Linked DNA regions of Homo sapiens: region 1 is linked to region 2. The links come from fine-mapping of genetic effects on gene expression. Tissue or cell type: blood mononuclear cells. Region 2 holds a variant in brackets; the other region holds the start of a gene. All regions are shown on one strand. Distances are between the middles of the regions.

Evidence for each region. PIP is the estimated chance that this variant, and not a neighbour inherited with it, causes the effect.
Region 1: GRIN3A starts here. The variant in region 2 is the best candidate, but not a certain one, in a credible set for the expression of GRIN3A in blood mononuclear cells (TOPMed, PIP 0.68).

The regions. Positions count from the first base shown.
Region 1 is chr9:101,737,451-101,740,108 of GRCh38, forward strand. It overlaps GRIN3A (glutamate ionotropic receptor NMDA type subunit 3A), which reads right to left and starts at 1,197. Exons shown (of 9, transcript NM_133445.3): 1 at 1-1,197. The coding sequence starts at 529. RefSeq lists enhancers at 506-1,030, 1,031-1,554.
Region 2 is chr9:101,589,226-101,591,725 of GRCh38, forward strand. All of the region lies in intron 6 of GRIN3A (glutamate ionotropic receptor NMDA type subunit 3A), which reads right to left. It overlaps PPP3R2 (protein phosphatase 3 regulatory subunit B, beta), which reads right to left. Exons shown (of 1, transcript NM_147180.4): 1 at 2,379-2,500. Among named protein-coding and RNA genes, the nearest start is that of PPP3R2, 4.5 kb to the right of the region's middle. The variant A/G (reference allele first, on the strand shown) is at 1,067.

The DNA of each region.
Region 1 (2,658 bases), 150 kb after region 2:
GGTCACTGCTCCATGGCGAACTAGGGGAGGAGAAGGGCAAAAGTGGCAGATCGCCCAGGCCTGCCTCGATGGCCATCACTACTTCCAAAGACAGGTTGTAGGGTAGCAGCCCTTCCACGCGGTTCAGGTTGTCCACGGCAAATAGGAGGGCGTCCCGTGGCCACAGGGCCTCCGCCCTGGCGCCCTCCCCGGGCTTACGGGAGCCCGGCGGCCCCCGGCCATGCAGGGTGCTCCCCAACCAGCGTGCGCCCGGCGAGGGCGCCGGGGACCGCCTAGTCCCTGGCTCCGGCTCATCCCTCTGGGCTCCTGCTCGGCTGTCGTCCGGAGCGCGGCTGGCCGCGCGGGGGGCGGTGGTCCAGGGCTGCAAGTGCACCGCGCCCACCCTCACCGCGTGCCCGATGCGCTTGAGGATCTGGCAGGGCTGCGGGTGCGAGGAGGAGCTGGGCACCCCGGCCAGCACCAGTGCGCAGGGCGGCGGCAACAGCAGACAGACCCTGCTCAGCAGCCACCACAAACTCAGTCTCCTCATTACTGAGACCCGCAGGGAGAAAGCGCGCCCCCTCCTGCGCCCGGCTCGCCCCTCTGCAGCCGCTGCCTGAGGTCTCCGCCTCCAGGTCCCGCGCGCAGCTTCACTCCACTCGGTGAAGCGGTCCCAGGAGCTGGAGCGGTCTCTAGGCCATGCAAGTTGGAGCGTAGCGCGCCTCCGGCAGTCTCAGATCCCGCTCCCAGGTCCCTCCGCCTGGCATCCTCTGCCCGCCCGGTCACTGCGCTGAGCAGGCAGGCGGGCGGGCCGGCGCCTGTCACCCGCAGCTGGAGCGCCCGTTCCCTGCCCGCCCCATCTGCAGGGCGCCTCGGGCACTGCGTCCGGCCCCGCGAGGCGGCCGGGATGAGAAGCAGCCGGAGTTCCTCGGGGGCAGCAGTGACAGAGGAGCGACGCGCTCTCGCCTGGATTCTTTTCCTTTTCTGCCCAGGCGAGACCCACTTATTTCCTGGGGTCGCGTTGGAGAGGGCTTTCACGCCCGGGGTGCGGAAAAGAAGCCAAATCCACCTTCCTCCACTGTTGGCCACCCTCCTGCAGGCTCCCCCAGCGCCGACTTCATTTTCTCTCTTCTCTCGCTACTTCCTCTCTGCCTTTCTTTCGTTATTTTTCCACCGAGTCGCCACCGCCGCTTGCTTCCTCGGAGGAGCAACGCGACTGGCCAGCAAAGGGTGGCTCTGCTCCGAGCGCCAAAGTTCTCCCCGCCTCAGCCGGCGCCTCCCTGTTGCTGAGCCCTGGCGCCTGCCTGTCGCTTGGCTGCGCTAAACGCCCACTGTTGGTGAGATTCCCGAGTGGCACATCCCGCGCCCCTGGAAAGTCCTCTCCCCTCAAAGGCTGGGCGTCATAGTTTGCAAAATTCCCTAAAACCTAAGAAGGAAAATAGGACTATGAGCCGGTGAGAATTCTGAATTCAGAGTCGCACCTGAGGGATCTGAAATTCGGTGGTTCACTGAAATAGGTTCAAAGAGGCTGTGACTTAACGAGCTTCTGGATGTGTCGCTTTTAAGGTTTTTCTAGCTAAGGGTATTAAAGTAAGAATTATTTACACATTTTTATCTCCTCAGCTTCTTTCTTTCTGGCATGTGAGCCTTTGCATTTTTTTTTTAAAGAATCCCTGTTTTTAGGTTCTCAGAATTAAAACAAAGTGAATTCAAAGCAATTTTTTCAGTTCAAGAAATTAAAGAGTTTCAAAATACTTTTAGAGTTTAAAATGCAGTCAACAGCAGTTCCCAGTTTAGATCAAGAGTCCCCAGATCACAGTTTGTACTAAGTTATTTCATTTGTATGGTAATACAGTGAAGTCAACGTGTTGTGATCTAATCTTTTCCTCCATGATTTGAATAATCTGAAACTAGAAGGTAAGGAAAGAGTTAAGGGCAGGCCTGTGGTTTGCACATATACAGTAGATTAATTTTATTTTATCCCACAGTATCGTTTAGAAGGAGGGTAGGAGAGATCCATGGGGTGGAGCAAGCACTGGGGATCAGCCTTTCTGAGTCTAATACTACTTCATGACCATGACCTTGGCAACTTATTTCACCCGACCTTGCCCTGCTGTTTGGATCTGCTAAATTGTTATGCAAATACAGCTGGCTTTTAGCTCTGGAGGGTTGTTTTGATTCATGAGCTAAAGTTTCCATCATGTTTTAAATCCTGGGAAGAAGAGACTCTAGTTAAGTAAAAATCCCAAGAAGCTTGCAAAGTGAATGCTGTTTTCCCCAGCCCAGATCTTTAAAGGTATCTCAGAACAAATTTACCAGACATTCGGCATCGTTTTTGCAAGACTGGGTTGCTAGAGAAGAAAAGTCTCCCATGAGAAAAAAAGTGAAAATCATAGTAGTGGGCTGAATGAGGAGGGAAAGAAACCCTCCTGAAGCCTGAGAGAACATCCCATGAATGGAGAAAAGCTGCCTCTAGTGTGCTGGAAATTCCCCCTTGATCCACAGGATTCCACTGATTGAGATCTGAATAATAAAAGTGTAGAAGTCTGAGGTCCTTGCATTGCAGGAAGATTGGGTATCTACTAATTGTGTAGTAAGGAGGTATATTTGTCTGTACTCGAGTGTGTGTTTTGAAGAATATAATGTATAACTTTCTAGGTTATGACCATGCTTAGTCCT
Region 2 (2,500 bases):
GCCTCCCAAAGTGCTGGGATTAAAGACGTGAGCCTCTGCACCTGGCCATGTATAGCATTTTAAAATATTTTTATTTCTTTGAGATATACATTGCAATGAGTGAGATTACCTGGTCAAAGGATACAACTGTTCTGATGACTTGTGATGTGTAAAATGACCCATAAAAAGGGTGAAAGCCATTCCCAATGCCACCAAAGATACTGCAATGCCTAGAAGGCTTCTATTTTTGCCAACTGTTTTATAATTATTCATTTTTCCTGTTTTAAATATTGTAATTTGTATTTATTGAATTAGCAAGCCTATTTTTCCATGTTTGTTTTACCTATCTCCTTTTGAATGAATCATATAATGACTTTTTTGCATATTTATTTATGCATATCAGACACAATGAAGCTTTTTTTTGAAAAACTGCTAACCCTTTTGCTAACATGTTATGTTTCTCCCTTTTTATGTTTTCTTTGTTTTGTTATATTTTATTATATAAAAGTTTGAAGTTTTACACAGCTATACTTATTTTGATTATTGTACATTTTTCTACTGTTTCAGGCATTAGAACATATTGATTATGGGGATAAATATTTTGTGTCCAGTGTTATATCTTTAAAAAATAGTGAACCCTTCAGTCCATTTTGAACTTCTGTGCCAAAGAGTGTAACTATGTTAATTTTTCTTCACTGAAACTCTTAATTTCATCTCAATATTTCAGAGACTCCTTAGTCAATAAAAAGCTACCTCCATATTAGAGTGACCTGCATTTCTTTGTAGTAATTTAGGTTTTTATTTAAAATCTTTAAAGGTTTTATTTAAAATATTGGTAATTTTTAAAAAACATTGTGAGAACAAACACCATGTAAAACCAGTAACAACGAAAGCAAACATTTGTAGGTCAGAGTTAGCCTGTGAGTAGTCAGACTGTCTTCTGATCTACACAGCTTTACTGCTACTACGGTGACCCTTCAGTGTTAGAATTTTTCATTATGAATCAGCTAATTCCTGATGATTCATGATTTATAGTTCACAGTCATTGGCTACTGGGGTAGGTACGGTAGTTGACACGGCAGCAGAG[A/G]AGTCCGGTCTGATTCTCAGTCTGGTGGCCTTGTTCCTCTACCATAATGACACTCTATTTATTTATTTATTTATTTATTTATTTATTTATTTATTTATTTATTTTTTTGAGATGGAATCTCGCTCTGTCACCCAGGCTGGAGTGCAGTGGTGTGATCTCAGCTCACTGCAACCTCTGTCTCCCTGGTTCAAGCAATTCTCCTGCCTCAGCCTTCCGAGTAGCTGGGATTACAGGCACGTGCCACCACGCCCAGCTAATTTTTGTATTTTTAGTAGAGATGGGGTTTCACCATGTTGGCCAGGATGGTCTCGATCTCCTGACCTCGTGATCTGCCCGCCTCGGCCTCCCAAAGTGCGGGGATTACAGGCATGAGCCACCGCGCCCGGCCAACACTCTTTTTAAAAACATCCGAGCCTCCTCCTGTTCAAAGTATTCAAAATAGATATAACACCATAGCAGACTAACTACCTACTCTATCTCTTAACAGAAAGAAAGAGTCAGTACTATAAGTAGAGAATGGAATTTATACTTTTTTTAAATAAAAAATTGTCTTCATTTAAAAAATTCATACTGTTCCTCAGACAGTGGCTTAGGAATTTGTAATTAACAAAAATGTCTGGAAGATATTTTTTCCTTGAGAATGTTTCTAAAGCATGAGAGAATATACACCAAAGCTAAATTGAATTTGCTGAGGCCATATTTTTTTCTCTGTTTCAAAAAGAGTGTCTAGTGGTCTGGGGATTGCAACATATGGTACAGAGCAGACATAATCCAATTAACATAGGATTCATAACAACATATTGTGACTGATCTCTATAGCCTCAGAGCATATTGGTTTGCGTTATCGGTTTAATCTAAATATTGTCACCTGTTTCTCAAGATGAGCCAAAGGTGGAACATGGCTTAAAACTGTCTCGTCTAACATATCTGTTTCATTGCAATGCATAGAACCAAAGAGGTGGAGGCTGCTTGTTCTTTGACAAGCAATTTACCTCTTTGGGCTTCAGTTTCATCATTTATGAAAACTGAGGCTTGATTTGATGACATGGTTAAGACTATAATAAATAATTTGTAACAGGTAGATATAGGAGCTATAAAAATAAGATAAATGCAGAGAGGTAGAAATAAAGCTCAGGATTTGGGGTCAGAAAGCCTGGTTCAAATCCATGCTTTGCCACTTACCAGCTGGGCGACTTTGGAGAAGATGCTAGATCTCTACATGGCATCATCTGTAATGCTGAAATAATGGCACCAGACTCACAGTGTTGTTATGATGATTAAATGATATGTATAACAAAGGTTATATCAAAAGTTATGGGACAATTGCTCAATAAATGTTTATTATCATCATCCCAAGAAACTGTATAGAACTAGATTTGTTGGCAACTGGCAATTAACTGACAGGAAAAACAAAGCATTCCGATTTGGGAATAA